Linked DNA regions of Homo sapiens. The protein of the gene in region 3 interacts with the protein of the main gene of each other region in a pairwise test. Each region holds a gene or a part of one and is shown on either strand. Other genes may lie near its edges. The genes, in order: RAB18, TNFAIP3, TAX1BP1 and UBTFL1.

Evidence for each region.
Region 1: the proteins of TAX1BP1 (region 3) and RAB18 interact in binary tests that used the Homo sapiens proteins (3 or more experiments, as listed by UniProt).
Region 2: the proteins of TAX1BP1 (region 3) and TNFAIP3 interact in binary tests that used the Homo sapiens proteins (3 or more experiments, as listed by UniProt).
Region 4: the proteins of TAX1BP1 (region 3) and UBTFL1 interact in binary tests that used the Homo sapiens proteins (3 or more experiments, as listed by UniProt).

What each region holds. Positions count from the first base shown.
Region 1 is NC_000010.11:27,534,835-27,542,480, forward strand, and holds the end of RAB18 (ras-related protein Rab-18), read left to right. Parts: intron 1-3,041; coding exon 3,042-3,217; coding exon of another isoform or gene 3,218-3,257; 3' UTR 3,258-7,405; downstream 7,406-7,646. UniProt on the Homo sapiens protein: The small GTPases Rab are key regulators of intracellular membrane trafficking, from the formation of transport vesicles to their fusion with membranes.
Region 2 is NC_000006.12:137,863,241-137,870,768, reverse strand, and holds the start of TNFAIP3 (tumor necrosis factor alpha-induced protein 3), read right to left. Parts: upstream 3,511-7,528; 5' UTR 3,227-3,510; exon of another isoform or gene 2,528-3,226; intron 1-2,527. UniProt on the Homo sapiens protein: Ubiquitin-editing enzyme that contains both ubiquitin ligase and deubiquitinase activities.
Region 3 is NC_000007.14:27,735,809-27,743,487, reverse strand, and holds the start of TAX1BP1 (tax1-binding protein 1), read right to left. Parts: upstream 3,327-7,679; 5' UTR 3,219-3,326; exon of another isoform or gene 2,813-3,218; intron 1-2,812.
Region 4 is NC_000011.10:90,081,139-90,088,032, reverse strand, and holds UBTFL1 (upstream-binding factor 1-like protein 1), read right to left. Parts: upstream 2,084-6,894; coding exon 902-2,083; downstream 1-901. UniProt on the Homo sapiens protein: Essential for proliferation of the inner cell mass and trophectodermal cells in peri-implantation development.

The DNA.
Region 1 (7,646 bases), on a different chromosome or scaffold from region 3:
AAAACAGAATGGAATTAGTGGAAAGTATTGAGATTTTCAGAAAGGAATCGAGTACTTTTACTTGCTGTATGTCCCTCATTTCCATACATTAGTTTACCCAATATTTATTGAACACTCAAGATGTAACAGTGGACAAAACTGACAAACTTTCTGCCCACATGGAGCTTACATTCTAGTAAGGGAGACAGACTTAAATAAGTAAGTAGTGCTATGAAGGAAATAAAACATTATAAGGGGAGAGAGAATGACTGGAGTGGGGACTGCTTAGGGAAAGTTCTTAGAGGCTGTCCCATTTGAGCAGAAATCCCTCAGGTGAGGATCTAGAGCAAGCTTGTCCAACTCATGGGCTGCATGTGGCCCAGGATGGCTTTGAATGTGGCCCAACACAAATTTGTAAACTTCCTTAAAACATTATGAGATTTTGTGCTTTTTTTTAAGTTCCAGCTATCATTAGTGTTATTGTATGTTATTTGTGGCCCAAGACTATTCTTCTTCTTCTAATGTGGCCCAGGGAAACCAAAACACTGGACACCCCTAGTCTAGAGGGAGATCATCTCAGGCTGAGAGAGGAGCAAATATTTCCTGAGGTGGGAATCAGGCTACTGTGTTAAAGGAACAGGAAGAAAGCGTGTGTACTGGAGCATAGAGTGTGTTAAGGAGAAGGCAGATGGTGAGAGATGCCATTCAAATGGTAAAGAGATGGATTGTATTCCAATTGTGGTGGAAAGTAGGGAAGCAGCGGTGTGACCTGATACTCTAAAAAGATCCTGTTGTGTAGAAAATGGACTAGGGGAAACAGAAGCAAGAGACTAGTTCTTCTCTTGCAGTGGCCCAGATGAAGGAAGAAGCGGTTTGACTGTGTAGCCGTAGAGGGTGGTAGAAAATTGGCAGTTCTAGGAGATACAGTGAAGGTATAGCTGACAGGATTTGTGGGTGGATTGGGTATGGAGGATAATTAAAAAGAGCAATCAGGCGGGTGCAGTGGCTCACGCCTGTAATCTCAGCACTTTGGGAGGCCGAGGCAGGCGGATTACGAGGTCAGGAGATCGAGACCATGGCTAACACGGTGAAACCCCGTCTCTACTAAAAATACAAAAAATTCACCGGGCGTGGTGGCGGGTGCCTGTAGTCCCAGCTACTTGGGAGGCTGAGGCAGGAGAATTGCTTGAACCTGGGAGGCGGAGCTTGCAGTGAGCGAGATCACGCCACTGCACTCCAGCCTGGGCGACAGAGCGAGACTCTGTCTCAAAAAAAAAAAAAGAGAGCAATCAGAGATAACTCCATGTTTTAGGCATGAGCAGTGAGGTAGATTGTGCTGCCAATAATTAGGATGTGAAAGATTGAGATAAGAGCAGGTTTAGGGTAGGGAAGTGAGGAATCAAGAATTTCACTTTGACATAAGAATGAGACATTTTTCCGATAACCGGTGGACATGGTGGTCATTGGCATTTAGGTGGCATTCAAGGTCATGTGATTAGAGTGGTGACTTCAGGAAAGAACGTGGATAGAAAAGGGCTGAAGAAGCCTGGGCAACATAGTGAGACCTCATCTCCAAATAAAATCAGCTGTGTATAGTGGCATGTGCCTGTGATTCCAGCTGTTCTGGAGGCTGAGGTGGGAGGATCACTTGAGCCTGGGAGGCCAGGGCTGCAGTGGAGCTCCCACTGCACTCCAGCCTAGGTGACAGAGTGAGACCCTGTCTCAAAAACAAAACAAAACAAAGAAAATGGCAGAAGATTGAACCCTGGGGGATTCCAGCAATTAGAGGTCAGCAGAAAGAGGAAGTGCCAGCAAACAAGGCTGCACATGACATGTCAGTGGGCTCAGAGGATTTTCAGGCATGTTCAGTGTCCTGGAAGTCAAGGGAACAACTTGTTTAAAAGAAGAGGAAGTGATTAGCAGTATCAGATACCAAAGATGTCAAATAAAATTAGGATATTGGATTTGACAAGATAAAGGGTGTTGGTGGTCTTGGAAAAGAATGATTTCAGTGGAGTGGTGGGAATGAAAGCCTAATTAGAGTAGTTTGAAGAAAGAACGTGAGATAAGAAGGTAGAAACAGCTTATGTGGATAACTCTTTAGAAGAGGTTTCAAAGAGAGTGGAGAAATGGGTGGCTACAAGAAGGGCATGTGGCCTAGAGAGCAAGTTTGTTTTTTAATAGGATGGAAAATAATTCGGCAGACTTTTAGGCTGATTGGTATGATCCAGTAGAGAGAGCGTTTGGTCCTTCGGTGAATGAGAAGGGATGGGACTCCAGGAACAAAAGAAGGCGATGGCTTGGATAGCAGCAGGGACAGTTTATCCATTCTCACAGGAGGGAAAGCAGAGCATGAGGATACATATGCAGGTAGCTTGGTAAATTTATTAGTGGGATGATCAGGCAGTTCTTGCCAGATTGCTTCTGATTTTCTCAGCATAATGCAGCTAGATTATTAGCTGCGATAGAGTTTTGAGAGGAAGGAATAAAGTACTCATCTCAGACGGTGAGAAAGATCATCACTAAGGAAACGCAGGGTTGGAAGCAGTGCTGAGTGTCCAGTTGAGTTTCATGAGCAAACATTTGCTGTGGGACCAGTTTTCATGGTGGTTTGTCATTTTGTCCAGCTGCCTGGAGCTGCTTGGTTGAAGGCACAGAATAATCAGATTAATTGTTTAACTTGTATGAATTTCTTTATTTTAAAATAGGAATAATATCTGCCTTGGGAGCAAGTTGTAAGAGTTAACTGAAAGCTTAAGGAAAAAACTTTCGCTCGCTATTTAAGTAGGGCTTTACAAGTTACAATTCTATCACAGTTTTAAGATTATAAACCAGTGTTTTTTTGGTATAAAATTATATACTAGTATTCTTATGGATAGAATTTAATTAGCTCAATTTTGAGATTTGGAAATTCACTAGTTATTGACCTTTGGGGAAAAATTGCTGATTTGGATCTTAATATATTGTAGGCTGATATTTATGCCCTGATAGTTTCCCAGAAAAACATGAGAATATGGCCAGAAAGGAATATACTATGAATGACCTTTTTCCTTGAATTTCAGAGGCAAGTGCAAAAACCTGTGATGGTGTACAATGTGCCTTTGAAGAACTTGTTGAAAAGATCATTCAGACCCCTGGACTGTGGGAAAGTGAGAACCAGAATAAAGGAGTCAAACTGTCACACAGGGAAGAAGGCCAAGGAGGAGGAGCCTGTGGTGGTTATTGCTCTGTGTTATAAACTCTGGGAAATTCCATCTCTTGCATATTTGATCAGATAGTGACATCTTTCTGTATATAAACTCTTTAACTGCTATTTTAGGGACCTTGCAGTTTGCACATAATTGTTTTATATCATAGCAGTAAATATTTGCAAGAAATCCCACTCATCGACCCCGGGTAAAATGTTATGGTAAGCATGCACAGTTTGCAGTCTACAGTTTTTTTATGTAGCACAAAATAGGTGTACCTTTATAAGTACATTCAATTTTATGATTTACATTTATCATGTAATTTTTAAAAAAATCCATCTATCTAGGATATGTTGATACAAAGTCTGCTTTTGCTATTCTTTTTGCTTAAATACTCCTATCATTTTCTGAATTACTTGGTATTTAGAACTCCTAGCACCACGGGGAAGAATAGAGGTATCATCAAACGTGGCAAATTTTCTTTCAGGAATAATAAAGAGCATGATTCCACAGCTTTTCTGGGATGTTTGAGATTCTTTTTTAGTACTAAGCAAAATTCTCATCACAGAATGTAGCCCAGGCCAATTTATAACTAAATCTCTATTTGTTCGGATGATGCTTCTAAAACAGCATTGATAGGTTAAAGAAGCTTGGTATTTTTAATTTACTTCAATGATTAGCTCAGTTGCTTAACTGGAGTTTTAATCCTGTGATATGTACATTGGATTCATGACTGTGCAGCATTTTTAGTTATGTGGTGTTTGGCAGAATGACAATAAGGTTTTCCCCCATTTTGGTTTCAGGAGGACATGAATAGTGTGTTTATTGTAACTCCTCATACACTTTTAAAACCAACATCTTTTTTCATAAATGTTGGTAGTGTTTGTCCAGGTACCTTAACTGTAGCTTGTGTAATGTTGATGAATATCTGTATCTTACGGCTTCCATAATGGCTAGTTGATATTCAAAAACCTATTTCTGTGTTTTGAGGGGTGGGGAAAAAAAACACTAAGTGATAATTTGAAAAAGGCATATTGCTTCCAGATTCTGATGTGTGAGGGAAAATACTGTCACAATGAAAATCTTGACAATTTACTTAACAAGTAACCAGTAGTTCATCAAAACCAACTTGTACAGACTAATAAATCTTTTTCACAGTATTCAGTTTTCTCACCTCTTGCTATTGTATATTGTAGATTTTTTTCATTCATGTGTTATTTAATTTACACTGATCTCTGCTATTTTAACCCCCCAAATAAGTTATTTGTCCTTTAAGGTTGGTTACTATAATACCCCTCAGTAAGATTCCAGTATTAATTTCTGGGCAGTTTGTTCTCTGTATACAATTGCAAATGATAAGCATTTTTGTGAGTGACCACCTTTGCAATATGTTTGTTAATTTACTTCATGTTGGGTTCTTTCTGAAATGTACATCTTTACATATAAAAACCTCACATTCTACTTGATTTACACTTCCTAGTCTACATTACATGTGGTTGAAGGTTTTATACATTCTATATGCTTTTACTAAATATACAAGATTTACTACTAGAAATTTGGAGAAAGAACACTAACACATGTACTTGTGATTTGTTCATGTTATATTAAAACTTGAGATTTGTGTATTTATGTAGAGTCTGTATTGACAAGACTGTTGTTTTTTGCTCCTTGAGCTATATAATAATCTGTGTATTGGATTGTTGTCTTGATTTGGTCTAAATTTGAATATATATGAGTTACTTGAATATAACAAAAATGAATTTTGTTTGATAGATTTATATTGTAACCTTTTTCTAGTTCTTGAATAAATATAGCCTGCTTTCCCTAGATGCATTTGTGTAGGAAGTATATACATTTCCCTATTACTCTCATCAGCTGAAGAATATGTACTATTGTGTTACTCAAATTATGTGGCTTTCATTTTGTTGTTTTGTTGCAAGCTTAGTGTTTTGTAGTGGAGGTTTTGTAAATGAAACAGTTGTAATATCTAAGGTCAGGCACCTAGTAACAGGGTTTTGTTAATTCTTTTCAGAATCATTGAAGCAGTCTTAAAGGGTCTTTTGCAGATGGTACAAATTAGAACAATTAGAATATAGTATTTTGAGTTCTAGTAGTACTGAGATTGACCCAAACAAATAAAAAACTATTCAATTTCTGAGTAATAGTTAATATTTATTGAAAGCTTCCTTGGTGCCAGATGCCTTTCTAAGTGCTGAATTATCTCATTAAACCTCACAGCAACCTTAAGAGATTAGTACTCCTATTATGCCCATTTTAAAGGTGAGGACAACACAATGTAGGTATGTTAGGTAACCCCCAAAGATCACATAGCTACTCAGTCACTGAGCTGGATTCCAGTCATGGCATTTTTACTTCTGAGCCCATACTCTTCACCATCGCTCATTTTACAATGGGTAGTTAGTTACCAGCTTTTTGTAACACAACCAAGTTAAGGCAGTTCCACTATTTCTTTATCACTCTTTTGTTATATGTAATAGAAGTATTTCACACTTTTGGGTTATAGAGTAAATCCCATGATGTAAACCTACCTCATAAGTCATGTGACATAAAAGTTAAGGTAGTGGAGTAGGTGGTCTTATTTCTTTCACCTGCTCAGAGTGGACTGAAAATCCTGACTTAGAAAAGGTACAAAGTTAGGGGACTTATGGTACCTTCACTTTTTATGTGAGAATAGAAATTATGGAAACAGTAATTTGCTCAAAACTGAAATCTGGGGTGATGTTTTCATTTCATGTATTTGATTGCCATCCATAAACTCATACTTGGTGTTGACATTCTAGCTGAGTGTTGTGGAAATAGACTTGATTTTGATTCATCGTAGCTTGCATGGTCAAGAGACATGATTCTCTACTAAGGGTGGGGCTAGCACCATAGCTCATAAAAGAATCCTTCTTACACCAGTACTTGTTCTGCCTGTGAGTTGGCACAGACTTACCTAATAACCATAGTGTCTTTAAGTACAACTTAATACATATTTTTTCTGTGTATTTTTTTCAAATGAACTCAACAATTCTTCAGGTATTATAGATCAGAGATCCTCTCCATATTCAAGCATTATGCTTCTCTTTCTTGGGGGTACATTTCACTAGTAATACTTAGGAAGTTATTTTGTCTTTCCTGTATTTCCCTAGTTAAGTATAGGGGTAAAAACGTTATTCAGCTTTCAGAAGACATTGTTCTGACTCCGACCCTGCCGTGTATACTCAACTATATAGACTTCACCCTGGGTTTTGCCTAAACTGTTGAAAGACGAGAATAAATAGACATAGACAGGCTAGCTAAGTCAAGACTAGGGGCTAAGGAATATAGAATCACCCAGGTCTTTTTTTTTTTTTTTAATTTTTCTCTCCTCAGTTGGGAACATCTATCATGCTGGAGGACTACTGTGATGGGGCTTTACATTTTACTGTTTTGTTGCTAGCTTATTGTTTCATACTTGGGAATCAGTCATGTTTCTGATTGTGGTATAAAGTTTGCTTAAGTGCCCCTTAGTTAAAGCTGTTCAATGAATGTAAGCACACACACACCTACACACATATTTTGAATAGTCGTGTGTTCATGCCTGTTCTCAGTCTTGTCCCCTTTACCGTTTCTCATGCAGGTTATTTCTTGCTTTTTTTTTTTTTCCTCTTTTTTAACCGGAGAAGCAACAAATTACGTAGTTTTTTTTGTGTTTCTTTGATTACTAGTGAGCTTGAGTACTTTTAATATTTTATTGGATATGTTTGTGACTGACTTTAATTTCTTGTTTGTGTGTGCTGTGGCTGCCCGATCCAGCACCTACTTCCTTCTCCCACCATACCACCCCCACCCCCACCCCTGCAAACAATTGGCATGTGGTTTGGGTGGCATTGTCACACCCTCGGCTTTCTAGATTAACCCAGTTACCTTTTAGCAGTGCCCCACTTCCCCAGTAGCAATGGTTCAGGGGTAGGCACCTGACCCAGACCAGACTACTGAGATAAAGATGTTTGCCTAGGCTTTTTCAGGAGCAATTGAAGACATCTTGTTGGAGATAGTGTGCTGGGAGGAGTCACATTCTGAACTTGCTGCAGCTCGTTTTTCTAATATAAAGGAACCAGCCTGAGGCAGTACCAGGGTGAGAGGGAGTCTATTGGAGCCCTTGGGAACTTCTGGATCAAATTGGACCTGAATTGAGATCTATTTCTCAGCTTTCACTTATGTGAGCCAATAAATTCCTTTTTTGTTGAAGGCAATTTGACTTGGATTTTCTTTTTTCTTGCAACCAAATATAAGTAGTGTGAGAATGTGTGTGTTTTTCTTATTTACAGAGGTGCTCGTACGTCAAGTTAGTTACATCAGTAATAGATTGTTTGCATAAGGAAGAAAAAAAGTAAACCACTTGAAAAGCCACTACTCTTAAATAACTATTAACATTTTAGTGAGAATACTTTTACGTATTTCTTTATGGATATATACATAGAAAACTGTAAATGA
Region 2 (7,528 bases), on a different chromosome or scaffold from region 3:
CCCCTCAGACCACCACCAAGCACTCCTGCTCTTGGGCAAACTCTTGAGTTATCACTCCCTCCCTATGCTGGAAGGACAGTAAAATACTTTATGAAAAATCTTGCAATTTTATGCTGTCACTTAGGCTGCTGGTTGGTGTTTCCTCTTTAGCCCCAAAGAGAAGTATTTATAAAGTGTTTAATCATGAAGTTTATTCTGATGTTTATAAAGAGTTAAAACCGAATGTTTTCTAATCAATAAAAAAGTCCATTTCCAGCAAGATGCTTTGCAATTTTAAGAGCAGTCAGCATTCCTTCAGAACCTCCGCACCGGACTTCATATCAGAATAAGAAACAGACTAACAATAGGCTAGGCATGGTGGCTCATGCCTTTAATCCTGGCACTTTGGGAGGTCGAGGGAGGAGGATCACTTAAGCTCAGGAGTTTGAGACTAGCCTGGGCAACACGGTGAGACCTAGGTCTCTACGAAAACAAAAAATGAAAAACCGCAAAATAATAATAGAACAATAAATTCTATACTTCTAAGAACAGATATTGGAGCTCAATCATTTTAACTCAACTGCCAATGAAATTTTATCATCACCCTCCAGGTACCAACACAGAGGCAAGTCTGCCTGGCTTTTCACCCTGAAATCTTTAAGCATAATCAACTAGTAGAAGGAATGAAAATCTAGAAGTAGACAAGGAAAGAAGTTTCCACCAGGAGGCCACTCTGGCAAATGAAGGAGGAAAGGTGGCAAAGACCAGCATCTACAACCCATGCCAACAGCGCAGGATGATGCAAATTAACATGATGTAGGATCTCTCCAGTGTGGAACACTGTAAAAAGCCAGCTGTGATTTACTAGCCCTTAGTAGGGTGTCTGGCCACACTTCCTAATTTCCAAGAAGATGAAGAAGTTTTCAGAGCACAAAGACATTCCCTAGGAAATTTCACAGTGATTGTTAATTCCATTCCTGCAACATCTTATTTGCCAGGGCAACTTTCCAGTTAATAAAAATGTTAAACCTATGGAAGAGGGAGGAGAAGAAACCTAGATTTTAGGGTAGCTACTTCTGTGTGGGTCTAGACTCTCAACACCATTGATAAGGTGTTGAGATAATTCTTGTGGCCCACTCAAAGGAGAGAGGTTGGACTAGATGACCCATGGTTTCTCCTGAGGAGTTTTCTGGTGATAGTTTTAGATTGGGATTCTTAATCTGATTGCTGGGAAAGGCATAGTGGGAGTCATTCTCTGGATCAGATGGTGCTCTCTTTTGATGTCAGACGTCCTCTACAGGTGGAATTGGGCAAAATCATAGCAGGATAAAAATAACACATATACCTTTCCTTTGTGGCACAGCAAAAGTCTCTTTCACAATATCATCTATCCGTCCGTCCGTCCGTCCGTCCATCCATCCATCCATCCATCCATCCATCCATCCATCCATCTATCCATCCATCCACCCATCCACCCAACAAGCACTACCTGACCACCTACTGAAGGCCAATCACCATGCTTGATGATGGGACTAAAAGTCAAAGATGACCTTATTCCCTTCCCTGAAATTACACTACCACCTTAGTCTGCAGCTAAGGCAATGGAGTTACAGGTACTGCTCAGATCCCACAGCCATTCAGGGGCAAAGTTTTGCCTAGGAGCCAGGTCTTTCAATACCTGCCCCTTGCAATCCCACAACACCAAACCTGTGGCTACAGTGCCTGCCACAATCAGATGGAAAGAGATGGGCAGTAGGAAGATTTTAAACAAATGAGGTGTTATCTCTTTTTGCTTGCCTGACTCTTTTATTTTTCTCTTCTGAATCTAAAGATTTTTCACCAAAGATCTAAAATAGTGAGAGCTGTAAACCATAGGCAAGACATGCAAATGTCAATATCGGATACGCCAGTGTGATCTCATTGGTAGGGTTAGCCTTGCACAGCCTGTAAAACTGCCTCCTTAGAAATCAAAACCCACTGCCCAGATTTCCAGGTCTTGGACCACTCTACGCTTAAGATTAAAGAACAAATGTTTCAGATACGTTATAAGTGGCAAACAATGCAATATTACCCTTAACTTTTTTTTTTTTAACATTTGTTACCTCACTGTCTTATTTAAAGGTAGTTTCTCAACTTTTGTCACTAGGATTCCACAGAACTTCTCCGTTACTCAAACTCTTCTCCCCCTTGTTTTATTTTTCCACTCTGGGCAGACATTTTTGTCTGCATTGTGGAAATTGATGAATTATTTATCAACAAATACCTCATCCAAATTTGGGGATGTGCCTCTCCAAAAAATCAAAAATAGTACAAAGAATTGAAAAAAAAATCAAAGCAGCACCTTAAACAATGAGAATGAAGCATTCATTGGCTGCTCAATAATCTGGTACATTAAGGTTGCGGTCCAGAAGTCCCTTTAATTAACAATGGTTCTGCCAAAATGCTACCCTGAGACACTTGACCAGACTGGCTTTCCAAGGCAAGAAGATCTGAGGCGAGGAGAACCGAAAACAAAGCGGGCTCAAAAAGAGTTAAGCTCCTTCCTTACTTAATGCCACTGCTTTTCTGAGAGGCCAGGTGGCAGGATGTGGGACGACTCCAGCTGACAAAGACAGTCTAACCGTGGGGTAGGGGCTGGAGCAGGGGCCAGCGACCCACGTCTACATGCATACTTCTCTTACACTGCTGCTACTGGAAAAGCTGAACCCCGCGCCAGGACCCCAGCCCCCTGCAAGGACCCGTGAGCGTCTGGGAAGCTGTCTCTGGGACTGAAGCCCCCCACCTCCGCCGGGCTGGCGGCCACTGCGGTACCCTACGCCCCGTCGGGCTGGTCCTGCACAATTTGGGAAAAAGCCGCAGCGCTTCTGCAAGGTCTACGTGGCCATGAGCATGCAACGCTTGGCTCCAAAAAAGACACGAAAGGAGCAAAGCGCCAACGACCACCCGATCGGAGGGCCCGAGGGGCGCCTCTTCACCAGTCAGCTGCAGCTTAAGTTCCGTGCATTATCTGAAAGGAACAGCTGGCTGGAGGTATCCAGGGCTGTCACTCCAACCTCTGCAGCAGTGACCTCAACTCCCAGCACTTCAAAACCCAGACAGAAACGTCCAACAAACTCCCAGTCCAGGAGCGCTGCAAAACCAACGCCAGGTAGACGGTGCCAGCCCGGGGGTCGCTGCCCAACATGCACCCGCAGCCCTTGACTGCGGTGAGCCCGAGGCAGACGGCACGGGGAGGCGCGGCGGTTACCTCTCCGGGAGGCGCGGCGGTTACCTCTCCGGGAGGCGCGGCGGTTACCTCTCCGGGCCCCGCGATCCTTTCGCAAAGTCCCAAGTCCTGGTCAAGGCAGGAGCGCGCCGCAGGCGGGGGTCGGGGCAGGGACCGGGCGGAGGCGACGCTCCATGGACGCCTGGGGTCGGGCTCGCTCGCTGGCAGGGTCGGCTGGGGGTGTGATCTCTCTTGGCGGCCGCTCTCACCGCTCCGCCCCCGCGGGCTCCAAGCTCGCTTGGCCCGCCACGAAGACTGCAGACTGCGCAGTCTGCTTTGCCCCGTTTCAGTTGTATGCGGGTTGTAGGCCCGGGGATTTCCACGGGACTTTCCAAAGTCACGTGACTCTCTGGGTCGGGCTGCGAAGTGCGTCCAGCCGGCCGCCAGAGGGCGCAGGGGGCGAGGGGCGCGCGCGGCCTCCGCCCGACCGGGCCTGCGGGCCCCGCCCCGCCCCCTTTCCCTGCCCCGCCCCGCTGCCCCGCCCCGCCCGGTCCCTGCAGGCGCCCGGAGAAACTCCCTCGCCCCGCCCCGGGGTGTCCCCGCGTGAGTCACCTGGGCATTTCGGAAGCTGGGGTCACGTCACATCCATGTGGAAATCGCGGTGATGGGAACTGGAAATGAAATAGGTTCTTTTTCGCAGTTGTTTTTCTGCAGAAAATCATCAACTGTGGAGAAGAAGAAGGGAAATAAGAAAGAAAGAAAACCCTAAAAACCACCCTGGCGCCCGGGCCCGCAGGCCTCGGGCCGGCTCTGAAAAGTTTGGGCTGTGCACGTGATGAGCGCGTAGGCGGGAGCCCCAGACAGGACCCGGGCGGGCATTTCGAGAAAAAGCAGCGGTGACAGCCTTTGGTCCCCATCTCCATTGTTCCTGCCAGCTCTGGACCCCAGGCTGCATGAGACGTAGGTCCCAGGGGACACCCGACCCCGTGGCCCCAGTCTTAGGTAAACTTAGGAATCAGAACAACACTCACCCCTATGCCGCGCTTGCTCCATTTCCCCTTGTCTATTTCTGCTCACCAAGCATCCAGCTGACATTGCATTCAAAGCAGCATTTCAGCTTAGAAATCGCTTCTAGTCCATCACGGTGCTTGCCATGTGTCTCCAAGGCTTTATTAGGTGTGTTTTTAGTTGTCCTGATAATCAGTTCACCCCAGGGTGCTGATGGCTGATAATACTGGCGCTTCCCTCCCTACCCCCATGCGTTGCACAGGGAGGGTGAGTCATGTGGAGATGGATGCAGCCCCCTGGGCAGTGGGGGTGCAGGTGCTGTGCAGGGAGGAGTCTTAGGGCGTTTTTACTGTCTTACTGCCCTCTAAGCACGGGACCCTTTGGATCATTTACTAGATTGGCTAAACTAGAACCGGATGGAAATATTCTGTACTATGGTCCCCTTAATTACATTTAAGAATACTTGTCAGGCCATATATCACAGGTTTTTAATTAGAAAAGTATCCTCCTCTCGCCAGTAAGGACTTGCAGAGATGGGGGTGGGGGCTGGATGGAGGGTGGCACTTTTTTGGCAAAAAGAAGTTTGGAGCAGAGTGTCACTAGTGGCCTCTCTGAAGACTGGTCCTCGTCTTTTAAAACCGATGGCTGGAATTTCTTCCAGTTCCAAACCTCTTGTTATTTGTCCTCTCTTCTTGTTCACAAATGTGCTATCAACATTCAAACAATGGATAGTCAGCTATCCATTGTAAATGGACCTTGCTGGAGTCCAGGGCTAGCAGAAATGACAGGGTCTAAAATGACATTTATCAAGTACTTGCTATATGCTTATATATGCTTTTTATATGAAGGTTAAGAAGCTTGAGGCATTTGCCCAGTTTCCACAACCAAAAGGGGCAGAGTCGCCAGTGGCATTAAGCCTGTGTTACTCCAAAGCCCATAATGACCAGTCTTACTAGACCATTCCTCTCAGGAAAGATCCTGTGAGACAGGTACTCTTTTGGTGTCCTGTCTCCCAGCCTCTCAAAACAGCCAAACACGGACCTTAGACAGAATGCGGCTTCAGAGGTAGAAGGGTCTTGGTTTCACCTTCAGGAAACCTCCTGGGTTTCAGTTGAGCTGGCAGAAGAAGATCATGTATCTGAAAGACCCTGCATGGAATGTTAATCCTCACACCACTCTCCTGCTGGTGCTCCTTTGTAAACAGAGTTGGCCTGTTTCCTCTCATCTCTGGCTCCATGACTTCAATCCTCCTGCAGCTTCCACTGCCCCTATCTGGCTCATGTCTTGCTGTCTGGTGTCATGAACTGGGAGTGCAGTAAAGAGGAGTGACAAGCCTGAGGGGCCACGTTCATACCTGCCACTGCCAACTGTCCTGATGTAACTGCTTTGTCATCTTGCCTGCCAGGATTTGTGACAAGGTAATAGCAGTCAGATGCAGGAGTGGTCTATAGCCCTGGATTATGTTCGAACTCCACTTTCCATGATTCTACTGCTGGGCTTGTGAATTGCCACTCCCACCACCAGGCGGTCTTTACTGTCCTTTCCACCTTCTAAATCAGCGCTGTGTTGGGCTGTACCCTTGCCTTTTCCCCTTCTATTATGTAACACATGGACAAGACCAATGACAATTTTCTTGGTGAATCAGAAGGAAAGAAAAGAAGAGAAGGAGAGAGTATAGATGGAATGCCTTCTTATGAAAAAAAGGAGAAATACAATTTGGGGAGATTTGTTGAATAAGTTGAAACCAAAGAGATATAGAATGCTGAAAAGCCTTGAAGGAGATTTAATTTGAGCTATAGGCCTTGTCAAGATGGACAGAACTCTTTAAAGAAGAGAATATTTATTAACATTTAGTAGACACTTAGGAGAAAAAATATGTCTCCTTATTAGATGAAAAAGGAATTCTGATTATGTGAAATATTTTTGGAGAGTTCCTAAGTTACGTGCCATTTTGACACCAATGCTGGGGTTTATGGGTCATGAACTATGTAAAATGAGCACACATGACCTCTTGGAATTAAACGGTTCCCGTGAGACTGTGCTTGCAGCCTGTATCCCTGTACCATGCAGTAAAAAAGATGTGCTTGCCCAGATGGGGGGAGCAGGAAGAACCTGATGAAAGAGAGCACCACGTGTGACAAGTGAGAGGAGACCCTGCTGAGCTCAAACATATTTCATGAGCCTTTCTTAATCAAGAATCAGCAACAGTTGATTGGTTGTTGATTCTTTTTTTTTTTTTTGAGACGTCGTCTTGCTCTGTCGCCCAGGCTGGAGTGCAGTGGCGCGATCTCAGCTCACTGCAAGCTCCGCCTCCCGGGTTCACGCCATTCTCCTGCCTCAGCCTCCCGAGTAGCTGGGACTACAGGCGCCCGCCACTACGCCCGGCTAATTTTTTGTATTTTTAGTAGAGACGGGGTTTCGCCGTGTTAGCCAGGATGGTCTCGATTCTCCTGACCTCGTGATCCACCCGCCTTGGCCTCCCAAAGTGCTGGGATTACAGGCGTGAGCCACCGCGCCTGGCCCCTGGTTGTTGATTGTTAATTAGCATGCGTCTGCAGTCCCAGCTACTCGGGAGGCTGAGAGGGAAGGGTCCTTTGAGTCCGGGAGTTTGAGTCTATCCTGGGCAACATAGTAAGACCCATGTTTCTAAAAATTAAAAAAATAAAAAAGAAGAAATTATGTATTTTTAATAATCAGTGACACTCTCTTTCTGAGACTGTACAGAATTCCAGGGCATGGCAGTCATGGGCCAAACTAAAACTGGACCTTTTGTGTCTTTTGTACAATTGCCCCCTCCCCTTTTCCCTGCACTGTGCTCTATTGGAAAGGCAGATTCATAGAAAACATATTGGGAAGCAGCCTTAGGTAACTATGGCAGCTTAGTTATTGTAGGGTAGCTTTGAATCATGTTTCAGATTTTCAAATTCTGCCTCAAACATTACTAAAGGGTAACGTTTGCACATTCAAGGCCACTACAAGGGCTAGTTCTGAGAATAAAGAGAAGCTTTCTGTGGATTATAACCGTGAGAACTGGGATAATGATGTCATAAATTTCATCATCCTATGAATGCCAAATTCTACTGAATGTTGCTTCTTATCTAGGGACCTCAGATCCTTTACATGTGTTATCTGGACTGAATGGAGAAACCCAAGACCCACCATGGTGGAGGGACAACTGAAGTCCTTAGTGACCCAGTGAGTCATAGTACCAGGATCAAAGACCCTCCACTGGGAAGGAGGCAGTTGGTGTAATGACAAGTACAGTTCCTTCTGTTGCACTTTGCCTGAAAGCGTGCGATGCTGACATCTCAAACTTGTCAGAAAATCCACTATCCC
Region 3 (7,679 bases):
GTTGTAATTCAGGTAATGGTTGATAGAGTTACTGAAAGTTTTTCACATCTTCAGCTAAAAAACCTTTAGAATTATCTCCAAACTTTAATCCGATAGGACACACAAACATATGAAAGGAAAAAATGTCCAGCATTCAAATAGTTTCCAATTATTCACACTGTGGCTCAAAAAAAGAAAGACTAACAACTCTCAACAGACCTCTGCTCCCAAAAAATGTAATCAGCAATTTTTCTAGGAGGCAACAGCAAAAGCCCCAGTCTATTAATTTGCACCCTTGCAGACATCCCTATTTCCAGAATCCTTTACACCTGAGTGCCAAGACATTCCGCCCAGGTATCACCCGCACCACTTTTATTTACTTTTTAGATTTTTATAAGTTGGTTTCTAAAATGCTATGATATTGGCCCACACATATTAGGGTAGAGGACATTTTTATCTTCTTCTAAAGGTTTATTTGGGACAAAATAAGCTTTAAAAAGACAGAAATGCATAAAGCCCAGATTTAACATATCCATTCCAAAAGAATACAACAAAGTCCCCAAAAGAAGTATACAAGGAGCATCATTAGGATCTTTCATGATTATTTTAACATTATTAAAAAGGTTGAAACTTTGAATTCCAAAATTTTACTTTTGTTATGGAAAAGGTATTTGCTGGTTAATTCTACAAACATGGCTGCAGTGAGAACTATAAACAGCGGTCTACAATTTAAGAACGTGATGGGCTGGGTGCGGTGGCTCACACCTGTAATCCCAGCACTTTGGAAGGCCGAGGCAGGCGGATCAAGAGGTCAGGAGTTCGACACTAGCCTGACCAACATGGAGAAACCTCGTCTCTACTAAAAATACAAAAATTTGCCGGGTATGTGTGGGGAAAAGCAAGAGAGATCAGACTGTTACTGTGTCTGTGTAGAAAGAAGTAGACATAGGAGACTCCATTTTGTTCTGTACTAAGAAAAATTATTCTGCCTTGAGATTCTGTTAATCTATGACCTTACCACCAACCCCGTGCTCTCTGAAACATGTGCTGTGTCAAACTCACGGTTAAACGGATTAAGGGTTGTGCAAGATGTGCTCTGTTAAACAGATGCTTGAAGGCAGCATGCTCCTTAAGAGTCATCACCACTCCCTAATCTCAAGTACCCAGGGACACAAAAACTGTGGAAGCCTGCAGGGACCTCTGCCTAGGAAAGCCAGGTATTGTCCAAGGTTTCTCCCCATGTGATAGTCTGAAATATGGCCTCGTGGGAAGGGAAAGACCTGACCATCCCCCAGCCCGACATCCGTAAAGGGTCTGTGCTGAGGAGGATTAGTATAAGAGGAAGGCATGCCTCTTGCAGTTGAGACAAGAGGAAGGCATCTGTCTCCTGCCCGTCCCTGGGCATGGAATGTCTCAGTATAAAACCCGATTGTACGTTCCATCTACTGAGATAGGGAAAAACCGCCTTAGGGCTGGAGGTGGGACATGTGGGCAGCAATACTGCTTTGTAAAGCATTGAGATGTTTATGTGTATGCATATCTAAAAGCACAGCACTTGATTCTTTACCTTGTCTATGATGCAAAGACCTTTGTTCACGTGTTTGTCTGCTGACCCTCTCCCCACTATTGTCTTGTGACCCTGACATAGCCCCCTCTCGGAGAAACACCCACAAATGATCAATAAATACTAAGGGAACTCAGAGGCTGGCGGGATCCTCCATATGCTGAACGCTGGTTCCCCGGATCCCCTTATTTCTTTCTCTGTACTTTGTGTCTTTTTCTTTTCCAAGTCTCTCATTCCACCTAACGAGAAACACCCACAGGTGTGGAGGGGCAACCCACCCCTTCAGTGTGGTGGTGCGCGCCTGTAATCCCAGGTACTCAGGAGGCTGAGGCAGGAGAATCGCTTGAACCTGGGAGGCGGAGGTTGCAATGAGCCGCGATCGCGCCACTGCACTCCAGCCTGGGAGACAGAGCAAGACTCCATCTCAAGGAAAAAAAAAAAAAAAGAACGTGATGACTAGAAAACAAAAACTACAATGTTCTTTGAAGTTGAACAATCAGTTTGAAAAATAAATAAAACCTTATTAGAAGTCGGCATCATCAAACAATCCTTCAAGTTTACCCTTGAAAGGAACAGAACGAAAGAGAAAGGCTGTCCTAAGCTCCTTCCCTAAACCCGAAAAGCACTTTGAGGACGATCGACCCACTTTTAGTTTCTATTCAAATGATCTCTTTAAATCCTTTAGGAATTGAGCACCAAACTTGTAACTATTAATTGTTCGTGCACAGCTCGTAGAAATTTTAACATTAGCAGAATGCAGACAGCTGAAAAATCAAGATTTATTTTCCCATCTAAAGCCTAACATAATAGCAATTCATAACCACTGTGTGAAACCGGAAATCTAACACTGTGTATGTCTAAAGTCAAATGCCAGTGTTTTCTAACAAAACTTTTACCAATAAGGTGTGTACACACACCCACACAGACGCACGCTAAGCTCAATTTTTTACTAATAAGGTGTACGCGCGCGCGCGCACGCTAAACTCTAGCCACAGATTCCCTAAGCCAGGAGTGCAAGTCGGTCGGGACTAGTCCACACCTTGCGAACGGGGCGGGGTGGGGAATGGATTCCAGGTGAAGCAGGCCATCAGCCAGAACCGCCAACTCCGCCCGCGGCCCTCAAAAGTAGGCGGCGCAGGGAGTCTCCGCCCCCTTCGCCACCGGCGACTCAAACCAAAACAGCTGGGTTTCTCTCCGCAAAGGCAAACCCCAGCGTCCTTCTCGGACGCGACCTACGTGTTTTCTCAGCTTACTGCGCCGGTAAAACCCACACTGCCCTCAAAACAGTCACCCCAGAGTTTAGCCTTGGACACCAGAAGCTTTTCCTTCGGGGGTCGCCAGCGTCACTCGTCCCCAGCCAAAGGGCCCCCGTCCCACACGCCTCCCCCAAATCGCGAAGGCCTGTCCCACGGGCCTCCCACCGCGTGGGGCGGCCACCCGTTGCCATTCCAAAACTCCACAGCTGATCCGAGTCGCCCACACCCCCGTCACAATCGCAGTCTGGAAAGGAAGGTTTGTCTTCGGGAAGGAAAGCCTCGTCACCACAGAGACCTCTCCCGAGACCGGCCAGGCCCCTACAGTACAGGGGCTGAAGGGTGTAGCACGAGCCCTAAAAGAGATGCAGCTGGAGGCCGCCCCGCACAAGGCGCTGGGGTGGACCGGGGAGGCGCCTTACCCAGTGGAAAGACTCCCGGATCAAGGGAGAAAGTTACGCAGGCTTCCGATCCTGATCCGCCATCAGCCGCCGAACCTCTTCCGCCACTACCGCCTACCCCCAAAGACCGGCTACACCTCCCCTCCCAGCCGACAGTAGGCCTTGCGTCACTTCCGCCCACGGGGCGGTCTCTTCCGCCTCCTGCCTGGTTCGCCGCTCCCCTCCGCGACGACACGCCCCCAGCCCACTCCGCCGCGGGACGCCTCATCCCGCGGGTAGGCTGGCTCTCTCCTTACTTCGTCCTTGCTATTTTCGTTCAACTTAATCGCAGCAAAACAATGCGTCTGGATTTACATTCTGATTTTATGTTATTATTTTGACATACGAAAGGGGGAAACACACAGGAGGTTTAAGTAACTCACCAGCGATGTGGAAAGGGCAGCTCAGAGGTCCATGGACAGTACCGTATCCCTGTCTGCGTCTCAGTCGGCCTAAACTAGCCCACTCATTTTATAGATAAGGAAATAGCCAGAGAAGCAAGGGAGTGACCACACGGCTAGGGCTGCAAACCCCTGAGCACCAAGACTGTCTCTGAACTCCTGGCCCAGTCGTGTGCTTTTTTGGCTATGAAGTTTTGTTCACTGAAAGCTCCTAGGAGCTTTTCAGTTCTAATGCCCTCTGATTCTATTTGCTCTCGCTCCAGCAGAGGCCTCTTTTCTAGCCGCATTTCTGTGAGTTACCTGCTTTTGTTATCCGTATCATTTTCCGTGTGTGAATTTTCTCCCGCGTTCTGTTATTTCTAAAATCACTTTTGCTTGTTGTATATGTTGCCTTCCTATATTGGACATTCAGTTTGAATCGTAACTCCACAGAAGCAAATGTGTCCCATTCGAATTCATCATAGTCTTCTGTTGCCGTAAAACCCTGACAAACCTTGCAATAGCACCAGAAAGGATATGTAAATTAGATCGCATTAAATGTTGAAGCACATTCTAAATACAGAACATTCAAAATTATCTTTCATATACTTTCATCTTTACTTCCAGTTATTTCAGAAGACATTAGCTTTGATAACATAGGTTCTCAATATTTACAGACTGATTTGTTTCCTGTGTATTGACATTTTTGAACTTGGTCTTGTGCTGGGTATTATACTTGATCATAGAATTTCAGAAGAACCTTAATAGGCCATTTAGTCCCAGTCTCCTTATTTTATGGATGAAGAAAACGGTGTGAATAATCAACATAAGTTATCACTTGCGTTACTGGTAGCAACCTTCTGGTAGTAGAAATAACTGTGTCCCTTAAGAAATGTAAACATAGCAGTGAATTTTATAAGCACAATTTGTCAGAGATGTCACTCTTTGTTTAAATCACATTCCTATTTATATGTAATACATTTTTAATTACCACTAATTTTCAGTTAATGAAATCAGAAAAACAGTATGCTTAATAAAAACCATAATTGAAAGACTTTTTTTTTTGCCCTGAGAGGGACGGAGTTTCGCTCTTGTTGCTCAGGCTGCAGTACAGTGGCGCGATCTCGGCTCACTGCAACCTCCGCCTCCCGGGTTCAAGCAATTCTCCTGCCTCAGCCTCCCAAGTAGCTGGGATTACAGGAGCCAGCCACCACGCCTGGCTAATTTTTGTATTTTTAGTAGAGAGGAGGTTTCGCCGTGTTGGTCAGGCTGGTCTCAAAGGACATTTTCACAGGTATTTTTACTTTGTTATTTTTAATTATTTCTTGAATTTTTAGACCTTATTTTCCCCAGGAAGGTATTTGTTCTGGAATTTTAGCTTGCTTCATTCATTTTAATAATGATCCTTTAATTTTTAGACCAAGTTTTTCCCACCAAGATAAATAGATACCCTCTTAGTATTTAATTGAATTTCTGGGTTTTGGGGGAGTAGGGTTTGGGTTTTTTGTTTGTTTGTTTTTTGAGACAGAGTCTCGCTCTGTCACCTAGGGTGTAGTGCAGTGGCATGATCTCGGGTCACTGCAACCTCCACCTCCCAGATTCAAGCAATTCTCCTGCCTCAGCCTCCCCAGTGGCTAGGATTACAGGCGCACACCACCACACTGGGCTAATTTTTATATCTTTAGTAGAGACGGGGTTTCTCCATGTTGGCCAGGCTGGTCTCCAACTCCTGACCTCAGGTGATCTGCCTGCCTCAGCCTCCCAAAGTGCTGGGATTACAAGCATGAGAGACCGCACCCGGCTTTAATTGAATTTCTTAAAGTTAGCCTCTTATTTGTATGGCAGTGGACTATGGCTAGAAGAGATATGGATTCACTTCCTTTAAGTGAAATCTTTCTGCCAGATGGATTTCAGAATTCAGAATTTTTCAGACTTTAGAGAGGTGTGCTTTATGTGACATTCCTCACTATCTGGGGCAGCACCCACAGTCAACTTTTTTTTCCGGAACAATTATGAATATCACACTAAGATAAATGAAATGTATAGTCTCACTCAAGTCAAGTTTTTCAGGTCAGGTTCTGCCACTTTGCCCTTGGGTTCAGGTCAAGTTTTAATGACAAATGAGTCAGGTCAAACAGGTTTTGCCACCAAATGTTGAGAAAACATTTGATTTTCAGAGCTTTTTCTTTTTTTTTTTTTTTTTGAGACGGGGTCTCTGCCCTCTTCCCTGTCACCCAGGCTGGAGAGCAGTGGCAAGATTTCGGCTCACTGCAACCTCTGCCTCCCAGGTTCGAGTGATTCTCCTTCTGGGATTACAGGCATGAGCCACCGCACCTGGCCAATTTTCAGAGCTTTTTAGATTTCGAAGTGGTGAATATTGAGAGAATTATTGGAAAGTAAATCAGTGAGTAACCCATGATTTTTCTGGAGCAACTACAGTGTCAAGTAGTTTCTAGGCAGTTGTCCTGTGTTTGATTGGGAAAATATGCTGACTATATTTAAAAGGCACTGTTCTTTCATTAGAGGAACTTATGATAGCAAAGGGAAGAAAAGAAATGAGCCCATGAAAATGTAGGTAACTAAAGTGTAAATGAATAGGAAGACAGATATTCAGAGATGGGAGAAAGTACAGGCTTATGTTAGCAGTACACTTTTCATGGGGGAGGCAGGCCTAGACTGTCAAAGTGAGGTATGATTTCGATGAGGAGATGGAGGAGGAGGACTTTCCAGTCAGGATTTAAGAGCTTGGGCAAGGGAATCAGGCAAGAAGAAAATTGTTAACCAAAAATAATAATTTCCTCCAAAGTTCATTCATTCACCATTGTGTCATGTCGCTTCTTAATAAGAGCATTTTGTTCATTTACTATGTGCTCTGGGAAAAACAAGGAATCAAGCATGGTTTCTTCCCTGAAACTGCTTAAAATCAGGTCAAGATGTTACCGGATGGTATAGATAACTGTCAAATTTGAAGGAAATGGACTATGAGAAATAAAGTAGAAAGATATACAGAATAATTAATTTTGAAATTAGCTAGACTTTGTAAAAGAGATTGGTCTCTAAACTTCAAAAGACTGATAAGATTTGAAAAGATGAAAAAAAGGCTTACATAGTGAGAATAATATAATTTAAAAGGCACAGATGGGACAACTAGATAGCAAAACATGGATTGAAAATTTTTGAAAAAGTTCAAATAGACATGTTTTATTAGAAACATTACAGGTTTTAAAAGCCAGGCAAATGAGTTGTTCTCCTTTCTTAGAACAATGGTTTACATTAGAATTTGTATTAAAGATTCCTTTTGTTATAAATGATTCTTAATTAAAAAGAAAAAAACACCTTTGTAAACCTTTGTTTTAAAAAGAGAGCTTTTTTTTTTTTTTAGGCAGAGTCTCACTCTTTCACCCAAGCTGGAGTGCAGTGGCGCAATCTTGGCTCACTGCAACCTCTGCCTCCCGGGTTCAAGTGATTCTCCTGCCTCAGCCTCCCAAGTAGCTGGGACTACAGGTGCATGCCACCACACCCAGATAATTTTTTTGTATTTTTAGTTGAGACGAGGTTTCACTATGTTGGCCAGGATGGTCTCAATCTAAAAAGAGAGCCTTTAAAAATGAGATTTGAATAATGGTAGGCTTTGGATAGGCAGAGAAAGAGAGGATTCCAAACACTCTAAAATAGGCTGATTTTCTCTTTCCCTGTCTGTTAGATTTTATTGATGTATTCATTGCTCCTTGTTTCCCAATCATTACCTACCTAGGTGCTTGTAACACACCTTTGCTCCTTTGAGATATACACTGTTGTGTTATGCTCCGTCTTCCCTCCCTGTGGCTGTCGTCTTCTGATCTCCAAGTCACTGTTCCTCATTCAGTGAAGAGTGTCACCTAGTGCACAGTCTCCTCCATTCTAAGCCATTCATTGTCTACTTGGATGAGATTAAAATGAAAAGGCCAACATCCCAGCATTTTAATTTCCTGAATCCCTCATCTCAAATACTCCACTCCAGATACCTATTTCTGTGGTCACACCTTGGCCCTTGCCATCATCTTGAAAAGCAAGCCTCCTACTC
Region 4 (6,894 bases), on a different chromosome or scaffold from region 3:
ATTAAAACAATGTGACACTGGTGCATGAATTCTTAGATAGAGCAGATAGTGAAACAGGATAGTGTACTCATCTATATCTGTCTTTCTCTACATCTTTGTATCAATCCTGAATGCTAAAGGTGAGATTCACTTGCACCTGAAGCAGCAGGAAAAATTTGGAGCTTCAAGAATAAATGAAGATATAACTTAGAGAAGCTGCACCCAGTGTCACAAATGATTCTGTGGAGGAGCTCTTTCAGATTAAATCAGTAACTTTTTATTTTGTATTTTCATTTTTTTTTTGAAATAAGCAAGAAAAGTCTAATTGAGAACTGAGTCAGATATACATGTAGAAATATTACTCCCTACTCCCAGGCATGGGAATGGCCAACTCCTTACTTCAGGGAGGGGAGGAGAGAGATATCAAGAGTGGGACAATTCTCTTAAGACACCTACCCCACCTTTCATCAAATATCCCCGACCTTAGATTTAGTGCAGGAGTCCTGAAAAACATTTCCACAGGGAAGTTTGGGTCCCAGGCTTATGGGTATCCCCCTACCACCTTTGGCAGGACAAAAATGAGTAAAGCAAAGCTTCTTGCTTCAGAAATATTCAGTCTAATACAGTGTGTACCCCACAACGTAATCATCTCTTCATTTCAGAAGCCTTAATTGCATAAAGTTCCTCGGGAAAGGGATGATATTTGTTTGTTTGTTTTTTTAAGGATAAGGCCAGTATTGGCTCAAACTTATATTTATTCTTCCCAAAGAGTTCCTCCCAGGTTCATAATCTTGATGTAGGAGAGTGCTGCACCAAGTTGCTTCTTTCTTCCCAACCTGTCCTACTTTGCGGGAGGAAGGAAGAAAAGAAAACAAACAAACAAAAAAAAAAAAACAAGGAAGCTGCACTAGAGCCACTGCCCTCAGACATCAACTTCTATTTCTTCTCCACTGCTGCAGTCTGAAGAGTTACTGCTTTCTTCCTTTTCTCTATCTTTCTTCCTGTTCTCTTCTGGTTCCATGGAGACATGACAGTTTACCCAAATAGTCTGTGATGAATCTGTTCCTGCAGCCTGGAGCCCTTGCCCCTCCCCAAACCCTTCTTGCAGACCCTTTGCTGATGAGGACTGTGGATCTGCTTGTTTCAACCTGGGGTCCGGGCCTCCTGTCATGGCCATATTCTTACCCTTAGCATAGGTCGATTCTTTGTATGCAGCATAATTTTCAGGTGACAAAGTCTTGAGCCAGAGATCCAATTTCACCTTGTATTGCTTCTGCAGCTCCTCAGCCTGGCTCTTAAAATGATCCTTCTGGCTCTGCGGGATGCGCTGCCAGCGTCTGCCAATCTCTACCATGCGCTCCCTCACTGACAAATGTTGCATCTCTTTACTTGACCAGGAATCTTGGTGAAACTTGTGGTATCCATTCATGGGGGGTTTCTGAGGCTCTCCATGAAATTTTACCTTCTTGAAAAATCGATCCGTTTTTGGAAGAGACCTCACTTCTTCAATATTTTTCTGAAACTTCTTTTGCACTTTGTTTTGAGTCCTCTTGGAGACACTAGATTTCTTGGCCTTCTGGACTAAATCAGGGTGTTCTTCCCTGAATCGAGCAAGTTTTTCCTCAAATTCTTGCTTTTCCTTCCGGAAATCCTGAATATATTTCTGTTTCATCTGCTCTGGGAGTTCCCTGTATTTCTTTGACAGGATTTTGGTCAGTTCCTGGCTTCTCATCCCAGGGTACATTTGGGAGTACTGGGGCCAACTCTCCTTGAAGAAGCGATTGTAAGCAGTAAGGGGCCTCTTTGGAAAGTCTGGACCGTTCCTGTATTTTTGGCTTTTGTTCATCTTTTTAACACATTTCTTAGCTTCCAGGACTAATTCTTTCAAAGTGCCGAATTTTCTCAAGTTGCAAGAAATCTCTAACCATTTGAGTCTGCACATTTCACCAGAAAAGTTTTTAAAAGCTACTTTTCCCCAGTCCATGTGTGACTGAGTTGAGCTAAACGTGCTGTTGTCATCAGATGGGCGATTATTCTCCATGCATTCCAGTAACCTCAAGATGTCTTTGTTGGACCAATGGCCTTGGCTTCTAGGCAAAGCCATTTAGATGTCTTTGGCTTACTTATAAGATCCCGGTTATGTAGACACCAGAGCAAGAACACAGAGTTCTTTACTTTTAAGACTCAGTGGATGATTTATTTCTGGAAGTATTGCAGTATGTGTGATTCTGTATTTCTGAGGAGAAAGAAAGTTACTCTCCTTCATTTGGATTAATGAAGCAAATTACATCCTATTTGTCATATGTCCCTTGTATAATTCATTTGACCCTTAACTATAAATAAACATTGCCTGTTTCTGAATTAAATTTATGTTTGCCTTTCATATGCTACATGCACAATATTCAGTATCTCCACACCCCACCCCAGCCTGCTTTCTGCCAGATCTCACATGAACCTATCTTAAATTGAGTTGCATAACACAAACACCAGACCACTCATCACTTAAGAAGCTTAATATAACAGAAATGCCCTGAAGACAGAGTCAGAAGTTAAAGTGGAAGGAGAAATGCCTAAACAGGAAGGACTGTTCATTCTACAGTGCCCTGAGTATGGCCATTTTCTAAGCACAGCCCAAATAGCCATAGCTAAAGGTGCAGATGAGAAGTTAAAGATACAATCGGACAAGCCCAAGAGCTCCTCCAGACATGCATCCAACTGTTACCTTTTTATAAGGGAATGTGAACCTGTGATAAAAGACTGAATTATAGATTCTCCAGGACCAGTGCATGGGAATTAATGCTTTCTTGCTTTCTTTTATTTCTTTTTTTTTTTTTTAATTGAGACGGAGTTTCACTCTTGTCGCCCGGGTTAGAGTGCAGTGGGGCAATCTGGGCTCACTGCAACCTCTGTTTTTCAGCTTCAAGTGATTCTCCTGCCTCAGCCTCCCAAGCAGCTGAGATTACAGGCATGTGCCACCACGACTGGCTAATTTTTCTGTATTTTTTAGTAGAGATGGGGTTTCACCATGTTGGCCAGGCTGGTCTCGAATTCCCAACCTCAGGTGATCCGCCTGCCTCGGCTTCCCAGAGCGCTAGGATTACAGGCGTGAGCCACCACTCCTGGGCCGGGAATGAATGCTTTCTAAGAACCATACTGCTTCTCCTTTTAAATATCAAGGATTTAATGACAATTATAAAACATTTCAACTTTATTTGGTTAATTGTTCATCATATTTAAGCCTCAGTGAAAGTTTGGCTTCCTCCAGAAACTCCCTCCAGAATACCTGCCATTTTCCATTACAAAACTTGAAAATGTGGCAGATCTGATGACTACTCCTTTTTTTTTTTTTTTTTTTAGCAATTCTGTCTTGCCTGAAGTAATTCTTCTGGCACGTGATTTCTGGATTCACTCTTGAAATTCTCATAACTCTTTCACTAGTCTTTTTAGGATGATCTTCTATTCTAAGACTAAGCCTCACATAAATAAAATTGTGTACGAATACATACAACATTAAATAAAACCGAATCTTAAATGGAGGGTGAATAAGGAGTGTAACAGTGGGCCTTCAGGGGGAAAATATGCATTAGAAGGGAAAGAGAACAGAGTTAAGATACTGGTGGAAGTTGAAATTCTGAGAATGAGTTCTGAATATCTGAGAATAATATTTTTGAGAACTATTTTTAATTCTCAGTAGAGTATAGAAGGATGTAGCCTTTGAATGACATTAAAAATTCACTAGAAGTGTAAAGAATAATAGTCATAATATCACGTAAGTCACAAATGTCTCAAAACATAGATTAAAATGTTCTGAAATATTGGAATATAATTAAAGTCCATATTTGAGACAGAAGAGAAAATAAATAATAGCTTATATATTATATTAAATTTATTATGTGAAAAAGACTTTTGGGAAGTTGTTCCATAATAAATGAAGATATAAATAACTATAATTAAAATTTACAAAAAAAAAGCATTAAAATAAACTGTGAAAAACTTAAAAGAATGTAAAATTTAAAGTTATTAAATTTTTCATCTCAAAAATCATAAAAAAGTCATTTCATCAATGTCCTATGAAAATTAAAATAAAACAAACTTAGTAATGTAACAAATAAAAAGAGTAATTAAGAAAAAAGTAACTTTCACAAATCAAAGTTAAAAAAAAGAAAAAATAATGGATTCCATACTTTGTGTTTAAGATCAGAACATAGTCTCAAATGGTTCAGAAATAAAAAATGTCAGACTTCCAAATATATTGTGGTGATTATAAATAATAAAAATAAATAAATACAAGATGTATTCTAACTCAGAAAAAAGGGAAAAAACATAGAATTGACATTAGAAAAGAGGTGTGAAATATTCAGAATCTGAATTTAGGAAAAAAGAAGTACCATCTTCCCAATTGTAAAAGTTAGGGTGATGTGCGTAAAGCAGTGGAAATAAAAATACAGTTGTGTTTTTGTTGTTATGGGGCTGTTTTCTGAGCCAGACATTTTTTTCAAATTGCCAGTTAAAGAGTGGCCCCCCGAAATATATGTCTAAGTCCTAACCACTGAAACCTGTGAATATGGACTTTTGAAAATAGGATCTTTGCAGATGTAACTACCTTGGTAATCTCCCAACAAGATTAGTCTGGGTTTAGGGTGGGACCTAAGTCCAATGACTGGTATCCTTAGAGAAAAAATAAAAGGAAAATCTGAGACACATAGACAGCCATGTGGAGACAGAGGCAGAGACAGAGCTCACTAGAGCTATGCTGCCACAAGCCAATGAAAGCCAAGGATTCTCATCACCCACCAGAAGCTAGCAGAGAGGCAGGAGGTGGATTTCCCCTCAGAATTTCCAAAGGGAACCACTCTATCAACATGTTGATTTTAAATGTTAGGCATTCAGAAATGTGAGAGAGCAAATTATTGTTTTATCTGTGATAGTTTATTACAGCAGCCCCAGGAACCTAATATGCAAATGTTTTACATTTATTATTAATATCTTATTTTTCTCCTTAAAACTCTGTGAGCTCATTTTATGCTTGCTGTTCCATTACATATATGACGAAACTGTGACCAGGCATGGTGACTCATGCCTGTAATCCCAGCACTTTTGGAGCCTAAGATCCAAAAGGAGGGTCGTTTGAACTCAGGAGTTTGAGACAAGCCTGGGCAACAAAGTGAGAGACTCCTGTCAAAAAAAAAAACAAAAAACAAAAACAAGAAAGAAAGACAGAAAGAAAGAAAAAGAAAGAAAGAAAGAAAAAGAATGAAAGAGAAAGAAAGAAAGAAAGGAAGGAAGGAAGAAAGGAAGGAAGGAAGGAAGAAAGACAGACAGACAGACAGACAGAAAGAAAGAAAGAAAGAAAGAAAGAAAGAAAGAAAGAAGGAAAGAAACTGGGAAAACTAAGAATTTATATAGGGCCAGGCACAGTGGCTCATGCCTGTAATTTGAACATTTTTGGAGGCTGATGCAGGAAGATTGCTTGAGTTCAGGAGTTCCAGACCAGCCTGGGCAGCATGGAGAGACCCCATGTCTACAAAAACAAAAATTTAGCCAGGCCCACACTTGTAGTGCCTGTAGTCCCAACTACTCTGGAGGCTGAGGTGAGAGGATGGCTTGAGCACAGGAGGTCAAGACTTCAGTGAGCCTTGATTGTATCACTGCACTTCAGACTAGGCAACAGAGTGAGACTCTCTGTCTCAAAAAAATTGACCTTGTCAATGTTGTGTGATTTTCCCTTTTCTGTGTCATAATCCATCTAATTTTTATTTTTCATTTTTTATCACAATCACTTACGAAATACTTAGAAGTTTAAGACATTTTATTCCTGAACCATTTGAGAGTAAGTTTTGATCTTAAACAAAATGTATGAACTCCTGTGACTTTATGAAGCTGTATGAATTGTTAGTTTTTTAAATTTTTGTAACATAAAAGATAAATATTTGGCGAGGCACAGAGCCTCACGCCTGTAATCCCAGCACTTTGGAGGCTGAGGCAGGCAGATCACGAGGTCAAAAGATCAAGACCATCCTGGCTGACATGGTGAAACCCCATCTCTACTAAAAATACAAAAATTAGCTGGGCATGGTGGTGCACCCCTGTAGTCCCAGCTACTCGGGAGGCTGAGGCAGGAGAATCGCTTGAACCTGGGAGGCAGAGGTTGCAGTGAGCTGAGATCACGCCACTGCATTCCAGCCTGGTGACAGAGTGAGACTGCATCTCAAAAAAGGAAAATAAAAATAAAATAAAATAAAATAAACATTTATATAGTAGCTTCACAAAGTCATATGTATGATATTTATTATCAAACTATATTAAATATAATAAAAATATCAAAAAATAACAAGAGGCTTTAAAAAGAGGATTCAAACAACAAAATAGATTTGTAAAATAAAAATACCATGACAGAAATAAAAACTTCAGTGGAATATTAGGAAAATAAAAAAGTGCCTTTGAGCACTTAAAAACTTTGCAGACGACCAAGGCTGCATTCAACCTGAAGTTAAAGACAACATGGAACTTTTCATATTCTACAATAAAGGTTTCCAATTAAATTCTAGATATCATGCTATAGATAAAACTGTATAATATCTAGGACTTTCCCTCCAGAAGTTCACAATTTGTATAAACAAGGAACAAAAAATTAAAGGAAATACTCACCTGAATATTCTATAACTGGTCTGAACAGTGCTTGCAGGAAAGTTCATGCATTTGGCTCAGGAGTTCTGTGTCCTCTGGGCTTTCTGGACAACAGATGTTATTTTCTGAGGTTTCCACAGTCTAGCAAATTCCAAATGCCTCTAAAATAATTAGACTTGCTTTTTGGATGCCAGTGTATTATAGGATCCTTAAAGCCCCTCCCTGATTAGATGTCTGCAGTACAAAGTATCAATAAAAGGATTTACCTTTCAACCGTTGATTAAATTA